3 linked regions of the Homo sapiens genome follow. The protein of the gene in region 1 binds, or shares a complex with, the protein of each later gene. Each region holds a gene or a part of one and is shown on either strand. Other genes may lie near its edges.

Region 1 (7,013 bases):
GTTGCAGTGAGCTGAGATTGCGCCACTGCACTCCAGACTGGGTGAGAGAGCGAGGCTCCATCTCAAAAAAATAAAAAAAGTTACTTTCGGCCACATGTGGTGATTCACACCTGTAATCTCAGCACTTTGGGAAGCCAAGGCGGGCAGATCACTTGAGCCCAGAAATTTGAGACCAGCCTGGGCAACATGGTGAGACCCTGTCTCTACAAAGAATACAAAAATTAGCTGGGCATCGTGATGTGCACCTGTAGTCCTAGCTACTTGGGAGGCTGAGGTGGGAGGATCACCTGAGCCCCATGATCACGCCATTGCACTCCAACCTGGGCAACAGGTAAGACCCTGTCTCAAAAAACAACAATGAAAACCACTACCTTCATAGCATTGTCATGAAGATAAATAACACATAAATGCAATGGAGTACAAAACCCAGAGTCTAGTTGACTGGAATAAGTGCTTTAAAAAAAATAGCTATTATTGGCCGGGTATGGTGGCTTACACCTGTAATCCCAGGACTTTGGGAGGCCGAGGCAGGCAGATCACAAGGTCAGGAGATCGAGACCATCCTGGCTACCACAGTGAAACCCCATCTCTACTAAAAATACAAAAATTAGCCGGGCGTGGTGGCACGCACCTGTAGTCCCAGCTACTTGGGAGGCTGAGGCAGGAGAATCACTTGAACCCGGGGGGTGGAGGTTGCAGTGAGCCAAGATCATGCCACTGTACTCCAGCCTGGGTGACAGAGTGAGACTCCATCTAAAAAAAAAAAAAAAAAAAGCTATCATTAACAATTGCCATTAATAGTTGATCACTTTATGCAATTTAATTTTATTTATTTTTTTAGTAGAGACAGGGTTTCACCATGTTAGCCAGGATGGTCTTGATCTCCTGACCTCGTGATCCACCTGCCTCGGCCTCCCAAAGTGCTGGGATTACAGGCGTGAGCCACTGCGCCTGGCCGCAATTTACTTCATTGAATCTCCAACAAGAGTCCTGTGAGGTAAGCACTATCGTTATCACTGTTTAGAGTTTCAGAGGGGTTTAGAGGCTTCCCAAGATCACACAATACATAAATAGCAGAACCAAGCTTCAAAACCAGGTCTGTTTGTCTCCAGAATCCTTGCTCTTTATCAAGCCACGTACAGAGACATTGTGGTTGTTCAACTCATTCATTTATTCACTCTCTGAGCTTACAAAATGCTTAAGAAGTGGCAAGACAATTCTTCCCTTCAAGAAACTTAGAGTCTAATGGGAAAGGCAGGTTATGTCCACAAATAACTACACCTCAAAGTAGAAAATGATGATTTTTGTCAATAAGGGCCAGTTAGAGATTAATTTATTCATATAACACGTACTGAGAGCTGCTGTGGGCTGGGCCCTCTGCCAAGCACTGGGTATAATTCAAAGATAAATATGGCACAGTCTAGTCATAATCTAATGGGAGAGACAGGTATGTAAAGAAATTATTATAGTTATAAGGAATTAAGTTATGATTTTAAAATATGACAAAATACAGAGTGGAAGAAACAAACTGTGTTGGGATAGGGGGCAGAGGCAGAGACTGAATAAACTTTCAGCTGCCAAAAAATGTAAAAGAGCACAGAAAATGTGTGATGGCAGCTCAGGGGGAGTGTGCATTTTCTGGAGGATGCAAGAAGGCTTCATGGAGGAGGTGGCACGTGGGTTGGCACTTGTTTGATGGGTAGCTTTTAGTAGAGGGTTGAACCAGAGAGAGCCTGGAGGCCTAGAAGCCAGTTATAGGGGAGAATCATAGCGAGGCAAGCAATGAGGAGGACAGGGCAGTGACAGAGGTGGTGAGGAGGGAGTGAAGGGAGGGATGCCAGAGAGGACTGGTTCAGTGGGAACAAGTCTGTTTTTAATTTTTTTATTTTATTAATATTATTTATTTACTTATTTTGTGTGTGTGTGATGGACTCTAGCTCTGTCACCTAGGCTGGAGTGCAGTGGTGCGATCTCGGCTCACTGCAACCTTTGCCTCCACACCCGGCTAATTTTTTGTATTTTTGGTAGAGATGCCTGCAATCCCAGCACTTTGAGAGGCCAAGGTGGGTGGATCACTTGAGGTCAGGAGCTCGAGACCAGACTGGCCAACATGGTGAAACTCCGTCTCTACTAAAAATACAAAAAATAGATAGGCATGGTGGTGTGCACCTGTAGTCCCAGCTACTCGAGAGGCTGAGGCAGGAGAATCGTTTGAACCCAGGAGGTGGAGATTACAGTGAGCCAAGATCGCACCACTGCACTCCAGCCTAGGTGACAGAGTGAGACTCTGTCTCAAAAAAAAAAAAAAAAAAAAAAAAAAGAAGGAAGCCTATCTGACTATTGCTTCTCCCCCGCCATCCTTCTTACAGCGTGAAAAGTGTTGTTGTAGAGAAATGTACAGAAGGGGTAACTGGCTCTGTCTGGGGACGAGGAAAGGCTTCCCGAAGGAGGTAAATTTTCAGCTAAACTTCTCAGGATGTAGAGTGCTTCCTCCAGTTGTGGGAGAGAGAGAGGAGGATATTTCAGGTGAAGCGAACAGCTTTCCCCGCTGACCCTGTGTTAAGTTGCCCAGGGGCTCTACGGCGAAGGTTCCCCAGAGGAAGGGATCTTCCATACTTCAATGAGGCACTTTAAGAAACCCTTGAGTTCAGCTGGAATTCAGACCTTCCAGAGCTACCAGAAAAACATCATGTGGGAAATTGTGCCCGGCGCGGTGGCTCACGCCTGTAATCCCAGCACTTTGGGAGGCCGAGGCGGGCGGATCACGAGGTCAGGAGATCGAGACCATCCTGGCTAACATGGTGAAACCCCATCTCTACTACAAACGTAAAAAATCAGCCAGGTGTGGTGGCAGGGGCCTGTAGTCCCAGCTACTGGGGAGGCTGAGGCAGGGGAATGGCGTGAACCTGGGAGGCAGAGATTGCAGTGAGCTGAGATCATGCCACTGCACTCGACAGAGCGAGACTCCGTCTCAAAAAAAAAAAAAAAAAAAGCGTCATGTGGGAAATGGCTTTTCCAGCCTCCTGTAGGGGCCGCTGCTGCCCCAGACTCAGCCAGTCTTGTCTAAGAAAACTCAGAGGACGTCTCTGCTGGGGTGGTGGTGGGGTACACCCTGGACCTGCCGCCATCCAAGGAGTGAACTTAAGGGCGACAGTGCCCCCAAGCCTGAAGAATATGCACTCAGTCAATGGCATTTGGGGGTAGGGAGGGGGTGTAGTGGGCACTGATATTTTTCAGTCTCTGGGTCACCACAAGTTTATTAAAATAAAAGAAAATGTGGGTAAATGCTGCCATCTGTGCTGTCCCTACTCCCAATACACACACACAGGCACACACACACACAGGCACACACACACACAGGCACATAAACACACACACACACACACACACACACACACACACACGCATAACAAATCAGGTCCCAGACTAGATGCAGGAGTTGAAACTGCTTTAAAAACACTCTAAGAACTTAACTACAAACCCACACTCCCCATGCTTCTGGGGCTTAAGATCTTTGAGCTCATTCTTCAGCATCTCTCCTCGGGAAAGTGGGGTGGGCTGCTCCATGAGGTGGAGGTGAAGACCCCTGAGTCTGCCCTGTGGAGGGGGAGGCCCCCTAAGCCTAGAGTCCCGCTGCAGGGCTCTGTGCCAGGAGCCCCCGTGAGCCATGGCCTCGAAAGGGCAGCGGTGATTTTTTTCACATAAATATATCGCACTTAAATGAGTTTAGACAGCATGACATCAGAGAGTAATTAAATTGGTTTGGGTTGGAATTCCGTTTCCAATTCCTGAGTTCAGGTTTGTAAAAGATTTTTCTGAGCACCTGCAGGCCTGTGAGTGTGTGTGTGTGTGTGTGTGTGTGTGTGTGTGAAGTATTTTCACTGGAAAGGATTCAAAACTAGGGGGAAAAAAAAACTGGAGCACACAGGCAGCATTACGCCATTCTTCCTTCTTGGAAAAATCCCTCAGCCTTATACAAGCCTCCTTCAAGCCCTCAGTCAGTTGTGCAGGAGAAAGGGGGCGGTCGGCTTTCTCCTTTCAAGAACGAGTTATTTTCAGCTGCTGACTGGAGACGGTGCACGTCTGGATACGAGAGCATTTCCACTATGGGACTGGATACAAACACACACCCGGCAGACTTCAAGAGTCTCAGACTGAGGAGAAAGCCTTTCCTTCTGCTGCTACTGCTGCTGCCGCTGCTTTTGAAAGTCCACTCCTTTCATGGTTTTTCCTGCCAAACCAGAGGCACCTTCGCTGCTGCCGCTGTTCTCTTTGGTGTCATTCAGCGGCTGGCCAGAGGATGAGACTCCCCAAACTCCTCACTTTCTTGCTTTGGTACCTGGCTTGGCTGGACCTGGAATTCATCTGCACTGTGTTGGGTGCCCCTGACTTGGGCCAGAGACCCCAGGGGACCAGGCCAGGATTGGCCAAAGCAGAGGCCAAGGAGAGGCCCCCCCTGGCCCGGAACGTCTTCAGGCCAGGGGGTCACAGCTATGGTGGGGGGGCCACCAATGCCAATGCCAGGGCAAAGGGAGGCACCGGGCAGACAGGAGGCCTGACACAGCCCAAGAAGGATGAACCCAAAAAGCTGCCCCCCAGACCGGGCGGCCCTGAACCCAAGCCAGGACACCCTCCCCAAACAAGGCAGGCTACAGCCCGGACTGTGACCCCAAAAGGACAGCTTCCCGGAGGCAAGGCACCCCCAAAAGCAGGATCTGTCCCCAGCTCCTTCCTGCTGAAGAAGGCCAGGGAGCCCGGGCCCCCACGAGAGCCCAAGGAGCCGTTTCGCCCACCCCCCATCACACCCCACGAGTACATGCTCTCGCTGTACAGGACGCTGTCCGATGCTGACAGAAAGGGAGGCAACAGCAGCGTGAAGTTGGAGGCTGGCCTGGCCAACACCATCACCAGCTTTATTGACAAAGGGCAAGGTGAGGGGGCGGGGTGGCAGGGGCACGGCTCAGAGGGAGGGGCATCTGCATGAATGGAGGGGCTTTCAAAGCCCTGGCACTGCCCTGGTGGGAGACACTGTGTGCATCTGGCCCGGGGTGGGTGTCTGGGGACACTGACACATATCTCACACATAGCAGATCCTAGGCTGCCCACACATCAGGGCTGGAGGGCACCTAGGAAGCACCAGGTCCAACGCCTGCAAGGTGCAGAGTGGGCACTAAAGCCTAGAGAAGAGACAAGACCTGCCAGTTCGTGGCAGAGTTGGAGACCAGATTCCGAGACTTGATTGCTCAGTTGTGCATCTGTACCTGCTGGGCTGGCCGAACTTTCCAAGCTTCACAGGTTTGTAGGCGGTCTCAGACGGCAGAGAAAGAAATGAATCTTGAGGTCCCCATGCTTCTGCAACTTTGCCCTCAGGCAAGGGGATAGAGGAGGCAAGAGAGGTGCACACAGTAAATGGGGCATCTTGGAGTCATGGAATGATGTTCAGATACATGGGGAGGGAGCAGACCCAGGGCCTAACTCGCAGTATGACCTTGGGAAAGCTCCTTCTCACTTGGGGTCTCCGTTTTCCCATCTGTACACCTATATGGGGTTGGACAGGGTGGTTTCTGAGAGCCCTTCCAACATGAAAACTTTAGATGCTGTCCTGAACATGCCTCATTCTCCTCATTAACTCCAGAGACTACCTGCTCCCCTCTGTCTCTCTCGGCCCACCTAATGTTACTGTTGCAGCTTTTCCTCTCCACTTGCTGTGTGATCTAAGCAAGTCCCTCCCCCTCTCAGGGCCTCAGTTTCTTCCTAGTGTGAAGAGGGAGGTGGGCTGTTGGTCGCTCAAGTTGCCTGCAGCTCATTTGCTCTGGTCCTAGGCTGGCAGGGTGGGGGAGGGGTCAGAGGGTGGGAGAGGCTCCTCATTAGAGCTGGCCTGGAGGGGGCTGCCAGGGGGCGGGGGAGGCACAGAGGCAGCAGGTCTGGCTGAGGTGGGGGAGGTGGTCTGGCTGCCTGCCCAGCCAGGGAAAGCTGTGACCCCTTGGGGGCTCATAAAATAAGTCCGTGTGCCCCCCAGCACTAAGGGAGCTTGGAGAGGGGGAGATGGGGAGTTTAAAGGCCTAATTAGTCACCTTCTAGAGCAATATATGAAAGCTCCCCAATGGCAAATTGCAATTTAGGAAGGAGGGCATGCTGATTCGGAGATACTACTGAGCTTCTCACATACACATACATAGCCTTATGTTTATACACACATGCTGAATCACACATGTACATGCATGCTGACTCACACACACACGTGCTGAATCACACACGTACACACATGCCGAATCACACACATATGCATGTGCACACACACCTTCTTACATACACACACAAGATCAATCATGCATATACAGACATATATGTGCTCTTCAAATAGTCACACAAGCCCAATCATTTATACATATAATGCGTCATTAACGTATACACTCTTTCATATTCACATATGAACCCAATCACACACATGCATACAACTGTAACACACACACATGCTCAGGAGAGTAAGACACATAGGCAACAAAATCCTTGCACTGGAAAGCCAGGAAAATTGGGCTGTAGGTCAGTGTGGACCAGCTTTGTCATTAACTTGCTGTGTGACCTTAGTCAAGTCACTCCCCATCTCTGTGCCTCATCTGCATAACAAGAGCACCAAGGTCTCCTTTAAGGGATGGTGGAAGCAGCTGAGAATTTGAGCAAGTCATCTAACTTCTCTGAACCTTGGGATTCTCCTCTGGAAAAGCGTGTATTTTTTTTTTTTTTTTTTTTTTTTTTTTTTTTTTTTTTTTTTTTTTTTAGCCAGGGTCTTTCTCTGTTGCCCAGGCCGGAGTGCAATAGCGAATTCACGGCTCACTGAAGCCTTGACCTCCCTGGGGTCAATCAATCCTCCCACCTCAGCCTCCTGAGTAGCTGGGACTACATGTGCACGCCACCATGCCTGGTTAATTTTTGTATTTTTTGTAGAGACAGAGTGTCACCATGTTGTGCAGGCTGGTTTCGAACTCCGGAGCTCAAGCAATCCACCCACCTCA
Region 2 (7,086 bases), on another chromosome or scaffold:
CTCATTCAGAGTTTTAGAGACTAGGAAAAAACAAACAAACAACAAAATCAGCCCTCACTATTCTAAACTGTAGTTCAGAAATATCCAACAGAAGCTGAAACTCTATAAGAGGTTCCTTTTAACCTCTCCTTAGGGAAATGGTCCCATAATTCCTTTGGGGCATTCTCTCCCTTGCTACAGCAAGCCAGTAGATTTAACTTTTTTGACTACAGATTTGTTTCCAGTGGTGTTTAGTTAATGAGCTTTGACAAAGATAATGGTCAAATTTCTCCAATATCAATTGACTATGTGAAGAATATACATATATATACACACACACACACACACACATATTTGTGTGTGTGTATGTAATATATACATATTTATATAAGAACATATTGGCAGGGCGCAGTGGCTTATGCCTGTAATCCCAGCACTTTGGAAGGCCAAGGTGGGCGGATCACTTGAGCCCAGGAGTTCGAGACCAGCCTGGCCAACATGGCAAAACCCCATCTCTACTAAAAATACAAAATTAGCTGAGTGTGATGACACATGCCTGTAATCCTAGCTACTCAGGTGGCTGAGGCATGAGAATCACTTGAACCCAGGTGGCAGAGGCTGCAGTGAGCCGAGATCTCTGGGTGACAGAGGGAGACCCTGTCTCAAAAGAAAAAGAAAAGAAAGAACGAACCCAGGTCATTTGTCCTGTAGAGTATTCACAAAGTCTGAATTTGCACCTTTGAGTTACCACTTAATGTCTCCTGTATTTCCTGTAAATTAGTAGTTAGCTCTAATCAGATTCAGACTGGTTTGTTTGTTTGTTTGTTTGTTTGTTTGTTTTTGGTATGGCTACTTCATGCAAGGTGGAGTTATGTACTCTATGATCAGGAAAACATGTTTATCTCTGTTTTCATGATGAATAACAGCCACTGTTTTTTTGTTTACGTAGAGATGGGCTCTTACTATGTTGTCCAGGCTGGTTTTGAACTCCTGGGCTTAAGCAATCCTCCCACCTCAGCCTCCCAAAATGCTGGGATTACAGGTGTGAGCCACTGTGCCCTGCCACAGTCATTGTTGACCATTGCCTAGATATATTAATTCATTTGGATTTACAAAATGTTGATATTCTAATTATATTATCCCTTCTTCAATTATTTACTGGAATGCTTCTATAAAGAGAAATTTCCCCCTCATCTTGAGATACAGTTCCCAAAAGAAAACCAGGATAAATACTTGATTCTTTCCAATTACCAGCAGTTTTTAAAATAATGAGTTGATCTGCCAGCATTCTCCAACAATGACCAATGGGTTTGTATTTTTAAGTATCATTGTGAATTCATGGATTTAAACATATTTTATGAATTTCAATCCATTGCAGATAGTATCCATTTTGATACTTAAATTGCCCCATCTTTGGCCAATGGGAACTATTCTAGTTGGCTCCTAAGTTCTTTTATTACAATCCTAACACTCTTTGAAAGCTTCCTTGCCTATCTTGGACAATACCTGCCCCAAACCTGAAATCAGCCACTTATCCAAGGAGTTGTTTGTTGGTCCCTTTTAACAGAAAATGGTATTTACATAGCACAATTTGAGTACTAGAGGTGTTTATTTTTACTGGATCATTGTTTCCAGGCCTTTTTAGGGTAAAGCTAGGAAAATTTTAAGGATAAAATAAACCATGAGTTCAGAGTTATATTTGCAATTTAAATTCAGAATTACGGAGTTTTCTCTTAACTTCATCAATCGTAAATATGTATCTCTTTATTCCACCCCAAAAATTCTGGTTCTCAGAGACACTAACATTATTAATCATTTGTTTTATCTCATAACTAAAATAATCTCAGAATAACAATACCAACACTAACACCATAATATGGCTATTTAAAAATATTTTTGCATTTATTTTCTGGCATTATAGTATATCCCACTTAGGCTGTCATAGTCAAATTATTATGTTTTAAAGTCACTTGAATAGTTTGGTTAGAAGCATTTTACATTTCTATAATGAAACTGCTTGTGATATGGCCTCTAATGGTTGAGAAATATTTGTCATATATATATACCTGAGAAGTATATATTTGACAAAAATATTTGTCATATATATACCTGAGAAGAGTGCTATGAGGGCCTCTAGACTCTGTATTAAAATAGAGCCAACTGGTAAAGATGGCTTAGTGATTGTGTTGGTTATTACTGAGTGTCAATTTGATTGGATTGAAGGATACAAAGTATTGATCCTGGGTGTGTCTGTGAGGGTGTTGCCAAAAGAAATTAACATTTGAGTCAGTGGGCTGGGAAAGGCAGATCCACCCTTAATCTGGGTGAGCACAATCTAATTCACTGCCAGCACAGCTAGAATAAAAAGCAGGCAGAAAAATATGAAAGGAGAGACTGGCCTAGCCTCCCAGCCTACATATTTCTCCCATGCTGGATGCTTCCTGCCCTTGAACATCAGACTCCAAGTTCTTCAATTTTGAGACTGAGACTGGCTCTCCTTGCCCCTCAAGCTTGCAGACAGCCTACTGTGGGACCCTGTGATTGTGTAAGTTAATACTTAATAAATTCCCCTTTATTTATATATCTACCTATATAGATATCCATATCTATATAGATATTAATAAATCTAGAGAGACAGAAAGCAGACTGGTGATGGCCAGTCTAGATGGCTAGATAGATAGACATGGATATAGATATAGATCTCTATATAGATAGAGGTAGATACAGATATAGATATATGCCCTATTAGTTCTGTTCCTCTAGAGAACCCTAATACAGTGACCGTATTTGGAATCGGTCCTTCTGTTAATTTCACTTGGCAAGTACTAAAAGATGATGATCTCAGATATACCTATGGCTGCAAAAACATGACATGGCTAAATCCCTTGGTTGCAGTATCTCTTTTCTTTTTTAAGGGGGGTGGGGGGGCGGGTCTCACTGTTGCCCAGGCTGGAGTGCAATGGCGTTATCATAGCTCACTGCAGCCTCAAACTCCTGCGCTCAAGTGACCCTCCTGCCTCAGCTCCCAAAGTGCTGAGATTTTGCAATATTTATGGTCACAAGATTATGTTATTCCATAAAAGTATCTTTCTGAGGCTAGGCATGTTGGTTCACACTTGTAATCCCAGCACTCTGAGAGGCTGAGATGGAAGGATTCATTGAGGCAAGGAGTTCAAGACCAGCCTGGTCAACATAGTGAGACCTCATCTCGGAAGGAAGGAAGGAAGGAGGGAGGGAGGGAGGGAGGGAGTGAAGGAAGGAAGGAAGGAAGGAAGGAAGGAAGGAAGGAAGGAAGGAAAAGTATATTTTTGAATCTTTTTCTATTTCTCCAACTCTTTCTTTAGAAGAATTCTATTTCCATTCTTTCTTCACCTCTTTGCCTTTGTTAGCCTTCTCTCCAAGCAAATCGGGAGCCTTTATTTTTTGTGTATTCATGAGGGAGAGGAAGATGAATTGCTGTACAAACTAAAGTAATGAAAATGGAGTAGGTAGGAGGATAGACAGCTGCAAGGATCTGAGCTGGATAGACTGAACAAACCCTCATCCTAAGCAACTCACAGCTCAGATTTCTTCTCTGGACAGCTGGCTTTTTTCGTCCTTCTGAAATACTCTGCAAAGATAGGAGAGGGGCTATGAACTACCTCTGCTATGGATCTTATTCAAAGTCAGCTACCTCCTAGATACTATCTGTAGAACCTAAATGTAATATTCAGCATAGCAGGGATGAACATGGTAAATGAAAGGTATCCAATTGCCCACTGTAATTTTTAAAGGCCAGGAGCTCAACATTATTGAAAATGCTGGAGGGCTGCCTGGAGTAGGCAGTGACCACAGAGTCACACAAGCTGGAATTGGATATCCAACTTGTCTGTCATATTTCTCTCCTCCCTCCCTGACTTGGCACTCAATACTCCATATTCTTTCTAATCCTCTAACCCTCCCCACTCCCCCAACTCCCACACCCTACCCCCACCAACGTTCCTGGAATTTTGGACTTAGCTATTTTTAAAACCGTCAACTCAGTAGCCACCTCCCTCCCTGCTCAGCTGTCCAGTACTCTGGCCAGCCATATACTCCCCCTTCCCCCCATACCAAACCTTCTCTGGTTCCCTGACCTCAGTGAGACAGCAGCCGGCCTGGGGACCTGGGGGAGACACGGAGGACCCCCTGGCTGGAGCTGACCCACAGAGTAGGGAATCATGGCTGGAGAATTGGATAGCAGAGTAATGTTTGACCTCTGGAAACAGTAAGTCAAAATGAAATTGCAATTCCTTTAATAAGCTTTTATATTGAAGTTAGACTTTTATAAAATTACAAACACCTACTTGGATGTCTCTCGTCCAAATGCTGGGATCTCTCCCTACCAAGGTGCCCCAATCTCCATTTCTCTTTCTGTCTTATTTCTTTCTGGCCTCTGGCCTCTAGCTTTTTGAAGTTTAATTCTCTGTCTCTCCTCTGGCAGTCTTAGCCCTCTCTTTACCTTATTACCTCAAGACTCCTGATGAAGTTTTAGAAGGAGTTCCCTACGTCCTCTATTCTGTAGTTTTCTTACCAAGGCCAAATATGACCTCAGATGATGAGTCACTGATACCCTTCTATCCTGCCCCCACTTAGCAATGCCCTTCACATTGAGATTCCAAGCATGGGGGCTGCTCCCTGTAAATGATTTCTCCCCACAACTCTAGTCCCTCCATTCTATTCTCCCTCTTGCAGGACTCTTCCCCCAATCATATCCTTACCCATAAGATAGGGGAGTTAGGCAGGAGGGATTTAGCCCCTCTCCAACTCCTGTCATCATAAAAGACTGAGAACTTCAGAATTTGAAAAGAAGAGATTAATGGAAGGAGTGATATTTGGGAAAATACAAGAACTGTTGACTTAGAAAAAACAAATATTGATTTGCATGTTTGGTTTGCATCCCATTATTCCATGAGAGAGGGAGATTAAAATTGCAGCTCTCTAGAGCTGATGAAAAGAGATTGGTTTCCTTTTCATTTGAATACTGATATTCTAGACGGGATGGGTATGCCACCCTTAATCCTTCTTGTGTTCTGACACAAAGGAGGAAAAGAAATGTATGACTCCTAGAGGGCATCTCCTCCTAATGGAGAGGGACAAATAAGAAGTATGTTTCTGAAATATTTTCAGGTCCTAATTTTACTAGGGTACCCACTAGGATTACTGGTATCTGATCTAGCCCCATGATTCCTCCATCTTTGACATACCTGCTGTTTGGTAGCTCAGAATGGAGCAATACAGTGGACTCTGCCCCCTTGAGTTCACTCAACCTTCCCTCCACCCCCACCTAGGGGTATTGCACAAGGGCCCTAAAAGTGGCCACAGGAACAGGGCAAAGAGGCTTAACTGCCACACTTATAGTTTGAGGAACTCCAATCTCCCCAAATTCCAGTCTGTTCATCCTTTTCTTGATCTCCCCAGATTCACTCCACATTATCCTTACCAATCTTCAATTCTTCTCTCTCTCCATGTCCAGCCAAATTTCTTTTTTCAGTCACTTACAGGGCTTCCGGTCAAAATTCACTAGGTAGGAGGGTCATCAGCTGGGAAGAACCGGCGCCTGGGAAACCTGGCTGGATAGGTATGGGGGAGCCAGGCCAGTCCCCTAGTCCCAGGTCCTCCCATGGCAGTCCCCCAACTCTAAGCACTCTCACTCTCCTGCTGCTCCTCTGTGGACATGGTAAGGAAGGGCCAGGGAAGGGTTTGGGGAAATCTAGAGGGTAGGCTGCTATGTAGGGGTGGGCATGTGAGCCTGAATGAGTGAGGAGAGATAGGCGCTGAGAGTCCCGATCACTCGCCCTGCTCTCAAATACTAATATTTTATTTCCCGTTCAGTCTGGGGAAGGCCACTGGGGAAGCCCTTGGTCGACAGGCAGAAGAGATGTGGCAGGCTTACACACTTTTAGTAAGACAGCCGAGAGAACTAGGGACTAGGGGGTTGGGGGCTGGGGAAGGCCCTTAGTTAGGTTTTAGGAAGGCTGGAAACCCCTGATGAGATTTGGAAGAGTTATGAGCAAACTACACTCCGATAGAGCAGAGGTCTGAGGACCGTCTCACAATCCTCTCCCTTCTGTCTTTAGCTCATTCTCAATGCAAGATCCTCCGCTGCAATGCTGAGTACGTATCGTCCACTCTGAGCCTTAGAGGTGGGGGTTCATCAGGAGCACTTCGAGGAGGAGGAGGAGGAGGCCGGGGTGGAGGGGTGGGCTCTGGCGGCCTCTGTCGAGCCCTCCGCTCCTATGCGCTCTGCACTCGGCGCACCGCCCGCACCTGCCGCGGGGACCTCGCCTTCCATTCGGCGGTACATGGCATCGAAGACCTGATGATCCAGCACAACTGCTCCCGCCAGGGCCCTACAGCCCCTCCCCCGCCCCGGGGCCCCGCCCTTCCAGGCGCGGGCTCCGGCCTCCCTGCCCCGGACCCTTGTGACTATGAAGGCCGGTTTTCCCGGCTGCATGGTCGTCCCCCGGGGTTCTTGCATTGCGCTTCCTTCGGGGACCCCCATGTGCGCAGCTTCCACCATCACTTTCACACATGCCGTGTCCAAGGAGCTTGGCCTCTACTGGATAATGACTTCCTCTTTGTCCAAGCCACCAGCTCCCCCATGGCGTTGGGGGCCAACGCTACCGCCACCCGGAAGGTCAGGCACTCAATCTTCCTTCCGATCCACCTCATGAGATTCTTCCACGGGCACCATTCCTCCCCATCCCCACTATTCAACAGCAATGCTCCCTAATTCCCTTTTCTTCCTCAACCTCTCCCCCATCTCGAATCACTCCCTTCTACCAAACACCTGGAGCTGTAAATCACTTCCCCTTGATGGGAATTTGACTCAAATGCAGAAAACCTTGAAGAGACAGTCGGAGAGGGCGGACCTGAGGAGTTTCAGAAGGGAAACTTTTCCCTCTCCTAGGAAGTTGCCACGATTAAGTAGAGAGGGGGTTAAGTAGGGATGAGGTAATACTGGAACATAAATAGGAGAAGGGATCAAGGATTGAGGGCCATAGTAGTCCTGCATCTCTACTTGGATCAGATCTCTAACTATGTATGAGGTCTGATTGGGGGGAAGATGCACTGAACCCAAAATGA
Region 3 (7,022 bases), on another chromosome or scaffold:
ATTACCCCAAAACATAGCAACTTAGTGCAATAAACATGTATTATTTCATGCAGTTTCTGAGGGCCTGGAATCTGGGAGCAGTTTAGCCAGGTGGCTGTGGCTTAGGGTCTCCCACAATGTTGCAGGCAAGTTGTTGGCTGGGATTGGACAATCTGCTTTCAAGATACTTCGAAGTTATATCTCTTCCAATCATCAAGGCAGGCCTCTTAATGTAGCCACCACTCTCATTTTTCTGGGGAGAAAAGTAAGAGGAAGTAATGTGGCTAAGTTAACAGGCTCGTATTGAACTCCTGATTAGCTTCCTTTCTAGTTGCAGGCTGTGCACTCAGAAATTCAGTAGCCACACACATTAGCATTCTATGTAAAGTATGAGTCAGCTAACATGACTGTAACCCTCACTTGAGAGTAATTGTGTATATGTGCTAGAGTGACAATTGTTTTTATACATCAGAAGCATTTTGTGCTTATTTCTGACATTTTGGTCCTTCTCGCTAATAGTTGGAATTCTACTTGCCCCCATTTCGTACTCTGATAACCCTAACTTTGCATTTCAAACCAAAACATTTAACTAGAGAAGTGTGTTTGCTGTTCAGTTTTTAACTTTTTCGCTGTGGACATTTTCAGGTATAAAAGGAGAAGAATATAATGAACCATCCATGAGTAGTTACTGCAGTCACTACCTCATGGCTACTCTTATTTTATCTATACCCTCCTACATTATTCACTCCCAGCTGTTTTAATTTCAAGCAAATCCCTTGATACTGTTTTGTTGATAATTCTAATATGTATCTCTAAAAGAGAACTCTTTACCAACATAGCTATTAGACCAATTTTACAGTTTAAAAATTAACACTAATTCTTTAATCACCTAATTTTGTATGTGGAAATCTTAATAAGGCACGCCTGCTTAGGCTTGTGTTGGCTGGAAACTTTGTGTCTGCAAATGAAGCCCAGTTTTGTGCTATGGTCAGATGAGGAGTCTGTGGTACCTCCCAGATTGTTTCAATGTAGCTTCATTATTCATTATTCACAATAAAGTCTCATAACATTTGCTGTATTCATGTTTAGATGGAAATTCTCTTAAATTCCAAATTATATTCTTGACTCTTCAACTCTATAACTTGCATTAGTTCAAGTAATTAAAAATTGTACTTTGGCCATGCACAGTGGCTCATGCCTCGTAATCCCAGCACTTTGAGAGATTGAGGCAGGAGGATCACTTGAGCCCAGGAGTTTCAGACCAGCCTGGGAATCACAGTGAGACCCTGTCTCTACAACAAATAGTTTTTTTAAAATTAGCTGGGCATGATCATGTACACCTGTAGTCTCAGCTACTTGGGAGGCTGAGGCAGGAGGATCATTTGAGCCCAGGAGGTTGAGGCTGCAGTGAGCTATGATTGTGCCACTGCACTGAAGCCTGGGTGACAGAGCAAGACCCTGTCTCAAAAAAAAAAAAAATTGTACTTTATTTAAAATACCTTGCTTTTAAAGGGAGTATTTAAAAGAGAAAGCTTTTGATTAATATGGGTAGATACTTGTAAAGGTTTTTTTGTTTGTTTGACTCTTTAAAAATTTTTTGGCTCTATTACAGCTTACTACAGCCTTGACTTCCCAGGCTCCAGCGATCCTCCCATCTCAGCCTCTGGTGTAGCTGGGACTACAGGCACGTGGCACCATGCCTGGCTAATTTACTTTGTATTTTTGGTAGAGACAGGGTTTTGCCATGTTGCCAAGGCTGGTCTCAAACTTCTGAGCTCAAGCGATCTGCCAAGGCTGGTCTCAACCTTCTGAGCTCAAGCAATCTGCCACCTCGGCCTCCCAAGTGCTGGGATTACAGGTGTGAGTCACCGTGCCTGGCCATTAAAAAAATTTAAAAAATTACAATTACAAAAATTAGCTGAGCATGGCGGTGCATGCTTGTAATCCCAGCTACTTGGGAGGCTGAGGCAGGAGAATCACTTGAACCCAGGAGGCGGAGGTTGCAGTGAGCTGAGATCGTGCGACTGCACTCCCACCTGGGCGACAGAGCAAGACTCTGTCTCAAAAAAAAAAATTGTAAAAAAACAAAATACTTCAAAATGTAAAGAGTACTATATCAGTGTAAAAAAACTGGAAAAGCAAATGGAGCTTCACCTAACTCAAATGGTGATTCTAGTAAACAAAATCAGCTAGGACGTATTTTCAGTCACAAATTCATGGATGCTGACATTTCTGATATTCCGTTGTAGCTTCAGAGCCAGGAAACATCAAACTTTTTTCTGGAGTAGTGGACACAACTATCCTGGTGGATGGTAGACTACTTGGATTTAGAAAAGATCTAGGGCTGGGCCGGGCGCGGTGGCTCAAGCCTGTAATCCCAGCACTTCAGAAGGCCGAGGCGGGCGGATCACAAGGTCAGGAGATCAAGACCATCCTGGCTAACATGGTGAAACCCCGTCTCTACTAAAAATACGAAAAATTAGCCAGGCGTGGTGATGGGCGCCTGTAGTCCCAGCTACTCGGGAGGCTGAGGCAGGAGAATGGCGTGAACCCAGGAGGCGGAGCTTGCAGTGAGCCAAGATCATGCCACTGCACTCCAGCCTGGGCGACAGAGCAAGACTCCATTTCAAAAAAAAAAAAAAAAAAAAAAAGAAAAGATCTAGGGCTCAAATATTGAGGATTTTCTTGTTTGTTTATTCACAAACATTTATTGAGTGTTGAAATGAAATGTGATTAGTTCCACTCTTCACCTAGTTTTGTGGACTCCCAAACTCTAGCAGATTATTTCACATTCTGATCTTTAGTTTCCATGTGTTCCTCTTACTATGGCTGTGTGGCAAACCACCCCAAAAACCAGTGGCTGGAAACAGCATTTATTTTGCTCACGAATTTGCATTCTGAGCAGGGCTCTGCGGAAGAGTTCATCTCTGTTCCACGTGGCATTAGCAAGGCGGCTTGAAGGTGGTGGGGGTGGAATTATCTGAAACAGCACTATAGATAGAGCTTTCTGCGATGATGGAAAAGATCTACATCTACCCTGTGCAATACAGTAGAATCTAGCCATACGTGGCTACCAAGTACTTGAAATGTGACTAGTATGGCTGAAAATCTGATTTTAAATTTAATTCAATTTCAATTTCATTAGCTGCATAGCTGCATATGACTAGTGGCCACGTATTGGACATTGAAAATCTGAAGGCTCACTGATAAAGTCTAATACCTGGGCTGGGAAGATTCTTCAGGTATACGTCTCTTCCTGACTTCTCCTCCCCTTCCTCCCTTCTCTATCCCCATCTCCCTCCCTCTCTCCCTTTCACTCTCTCTGTGTATATATGTGTGTGTCTCTGTGATCCTGCTATATGATCTCTCCTGCAGGTCCACCTGGATTTAAGTGGAGGGAACATAGGCCCCACCTCTGTTGGAGGAGTGACAGTGTCATGTTGTAAGCTGAACATGTGGATGGGATATAATGGTGTGGCCATCTGTGGAAAATACACTCTGCCACATATAAACTGTAAAGTGAATTGGCTGGCTAGGTGAGCTCAAAATTTTCTTCTAGTTCTAGGCAGTTTTAAAGAAAGAAACCAACTAGTATGTGTCAAATGTTCTCTTTTTTTCATCAGAGTAATAAATTATTAAATTATTAGAAGGCTACATAGTGAAAAATTGAATCTCTTGATCTAATTCTCCCTACTCATTCTATTACCCTGGGAAAACCGCTTTTAATCTAACTCTTATATTTTTACTTCTGTTAGTAATTTTTAGCCATATGCCTAAATAATATGCTTGTACTACTATTTCTTGATTCATCAGTTTTAGATGTTATATATCTAAAATTGCCTTTCTGCTATAACAGATAAGGTCATAGCTCATCATGTCATCCTTCCCACTCCTGCCCTGCCACACTTGTATCACAGTTTTGAGTTTATCTCTTGGTTATTTTTTCAATTTCTTCAATATATTTAAGGTTTTCTATTCTGTTCTATCAACTGGAGACACTATCTCTTTATTCCTGATGTAAGTGGAGAATATTAATAGTCCTTTCCTTTTAAAGTTTATTTTATTTTATTATTTTTTTTTTTTAGCAATGAGACAGACTATAAGTGAGTTTTAAGAACAGTGCATTTCTTGAGGGAATTGAAGAGAGGGTTTGTTTGGGTTCCAGTCTTGGGAGATCATGTGAAGCTACCATGTTTAACATCATAGAAAGCAAAGAAATCAGTTTTTTCCCTTGCATTTATGAGTACTGCCCTTGAAATTTTCTACTTTTGGCATTCTGATGGGCTACTTTTGGAATTCTGATGGGCTGCATCAAAATCTGTGGGGAACGGAGTGTTACCTGTACTTTTACTTTTATATTGTCAAGGTTGATAACATCTACATTCTGAGAGGCTGCATAGTATAATGGTTAAGCGTATGAACTCTGGAACCAGGCTATCTGAATTTGGATCCAGTTCTGCCACTTACTGGTTGTATGACCTTGGGCAAGTTAGTTAATCTCTCAATGCCTCAATTTCCTCATCTGTAAAGCAGGGATAATAACCATACTGTGCGAGTATTGTGAGGATTAGGTGTAAAGTATTTAGAGCAATGCCTGGCACGTGAGTGCACTATAGGTAATTACTAACCTTATTTCTCTGTTTTGTAACTCTATTTGAATCTTCTAATGCTTTATTTACAGGTATATTCTAAAACTGGCAATAAACCATGTTTATATTGTAATGATTATATAAATATTGTTGACTGTTGACTGTAGTCACATAGGTACTATGATTACATTTCCCTTCTTGAATGATTTTGTTTTTCTTGAGTTTCTAATTATCTTTCTTTACCTTGTATCATCAATCATTAGCACCTTATATTGTTTTAAGTACTTAATGTATTTTTCCTCCCAAATGGAGCCTTCAGTCTTGATGTTTCCAGACTTAACTGATTGCAATCTAGGTCTGATGCAAGCTGTCTTATGGTGACTTTCCATCATTACTTTCCCAAGTTGGTTCCAGTGTTTCTTGGATTTCGTATCTTGTTGTTTTTAACAGTAACCCTTATTTTGTCCCAACATGCCCTCAAGTAACTTCCTAAGAAAGCCTGTGTGGAAAGTAAGCTTTCTGGGTCCTGCATGTCTTGAAGATGTATTTATTCTCACCTTTCACCTGACTGATGGTTTGCCTGAATACAGAATTCTATGTTAAATTCTTTTCCCTCAGAACTTTGGAGACATTTCTCTATTATCTAATAGCATTCCATATTGCCAATAAGAAGTCTGATGCCAGTCTGTTTCTTATTCTCTATAGGTAACTTTGTTATTCTCTCTAGAAACTTTTAGTATCATCTCATTAGCCTTCATATTATGGAATTTAAACTGTTGAGTCTAGTGTTGGTCTTTTCATTCATTCTGTTTGGTATCTTGTGAGTCTTTTGGGGATCAGTTTTGAGCCAAAGACTAGGAAATGCCCTGTTTTGTTTTTTGTTATATATATATATATATATATATATATATATATATATATATATATATATATCTTGTCCTAACATACATACATATATAATATATACGTTTTATATAACTATATTTTTGTATAATATATAATTATGTATAGTGTCCTCTTTTCTTTCTGGAACTCTTATTAGTATAAATCTAAGATGGATTCTCTGTTAGATTTTTTTTAAAAAACAGTTTTATTGAGATATATGATTCATATATTATAAAATTTACCCATTTAAGGGTACAATTGAGTGGTTTTGGCATATCGACAGACTTGTGCAACCATCACCACAATCTAATTTCAGAACATTTTCATTACTTTAGAAGGGAACTCCATACCCTTTAGAAGTCATTTCCTATTCTCTCTCCCCACAAACCCTAGGCAGTTTACTTTCTCTCTACATGCTTGTTCTGGACATTTAATATGAATGGAATCATACCTTGTCTTTTGTGTCTGACTTCTTTCATTGAGCATAATGTTTTCATGGTTCCTGTGTGTTGTAACATATTCAGTATTTCATTCCTTGGTCAAATAATATTCTGCTGAATGGGCATACCACATTTTATTTATCCATTTATTGGTTGGAGGATATTTGAGTTACTTATATTTTTGGCTATGGTAGATAATACTGCTATGAATATTCAAGTTTCAGTGTGTGGATGTATCTTTGTTTGTTTTTTAAGAGATAAACTGTGTTACACAGGTTTGTTTACTGCCTGTGCACACAGGCAGTGGTGCAATCATTGTTCACTGTAACCTTGAACTCCTGGGCTCAAACGATCCTCTCACCTTGGCCTCCCAAGTAGCTAGCACTACAGGTGTGTGCCACCATACCTGGCTAATTAAAAAAATTTTTTGTGTGTGGAGACAGGATCTTATTATGTTGCCCAGGTTGGTCTTGAACTCTTGTCCTCAAACGATCCTCCTGCCTTGGCCCCACAAAGTTCTGGGGTTACAGGTGTGAGCTGCTACAGACAACCCTGGATGTATCTCTTAATTTTTCTTTTGTATATACCTAGGAGTAGAATTGCTGGGCCATATGGCAACTCTGTGTTTAACATTTTGAGGAACTGCTGAAGTGTTTATTCTAAAGTGGCTGCACTATTTTACATTCCTACCAGTTGTGTATGAGAGTTCTAGTTTCCCTATAGCCTCACCAACACTTATCTTTCCTTTTTATTGTAGCACCTTTGTGGAGTGGTTATGATTTGCATTTCCCTAATAGCTAATGATGTTGAGCATCTTTTTATGTGCTTAGTGAATGCATGTGTGTGTGTGTGTGTGTGTGTGTGTGTGTATGTATGTATTTTTTTTTTTTTTTGAGAGAGGATCTTGCTCTGTCACCCAGGCTGGAGTGCAGTGGTGCAATCACGGCTAACAGCAACCTCAACCTCCTGGACTCAAGCAATCCTCCCACCTCAGTCTCCCAAGTAGCTGGGACTATAGGCATGCACCACCATGTCTGGTTAGCTTATTGTATATCTTTGGGGAAATACCTATTGAAAACCAGTGCTCTTTTTTGTGTGTGTGTGTTTGTTTTAGACGAGAGTCTCATTC

Evidence for each region. The genes of interacting proteins can lie anywhere in the genome.
Region 2: the proteins of GDF5 (region 1) and HJV are in contact, whole or in part, in a crystal structure (PDB 6Z3L), measured with the Homo sapiens proteins. Residues at the interface, in NP_000548.2 of Homo sapiens: Met412, Trp414, Trp417, Phe478, Asp480, Ser481, Lys488, Tyr490, Met493; in NP_001366281.1 of Homo sapiens: Arg95, Arg98, Gly99, Leu101, His104, Ser105, His108.
Region 3: the proteins of GDF5 (region 1) and TWSG1 are in contact, whole or in part, in a crystal structure (PDB 8BWL), measured with the Homo sapiens proteins. Residues at the interface, in NP_000548.2 of Homo sapiens: Glu434, Phe435, Pro436, Ser439, His440, Glu442, Asn445, Val448, Ile449, Leu452, Ser455; in NP_065699.1 of Homo sapiens: Cys26, Lys28, Cys31, Ala32, Ser33, Val35, Ser36, Leu39, Ile40, Cys44, Gln45, Cys46, Arg47, Cys73, Val74.

What each region holds. Positions count from the first base shown.
Region 1 is NC_000020.11:35,435,216-35,442,228, reverse strand, and holds the start of GDF5 (growth/differentiation factor 5 preproprotein), read left to right. Parts: upstream 1-4,000; 5' UTR 4,001-4,300; coding exon 4,301-4,931; intron 4,932-7,013. UniProt on the Homo sapiens protein: Growth factor involved in bone and cartilage formation. During cartilage development regulates differentiation of chondrogenic tissue through two pathways.
Region 2 is NC_000001.11:146,018,726-146,025,811, reverse strand, and holds the start of HJV (hemojuvelin isoform a precursor), read left to right. Parts: upstream 1-4,076; 5' UTR 4,077-4,225; intron 4,226-5,473; exon of another isoform or gene 5,474-5,491; 5' UTR 5,492-5,580; coding exon 5,581-5,677; intron 5,678-6,077; coding exon 6,078-6,637; intron 6,638-7,086. UniProt on the Homo sapiens protein: Acts as a bone morphogenetic protein (BMP) coreceptor. Through enhancement of BMP signaling regulates hepcidin (HAMP) expression and regulates iron homeostasis.
Region 3 is NC_000018.10:9,337,761-9,344,782, forward strand, and holds part of TWSG1 (twisted gastrulation protein homolog 1 precursor), read left to right. Parts: intron 1-5,250; exon of another isoform or gene 5,251-5,273; intron 5,274-7,022. UniProt on the Homo sapiens protein: May be involved in dorsoventral axis formation. Seems to antagonize BMP signaling by forming ternary complexes with CHRD and BMPs, thereby preventing BMPs from binding to their receptors.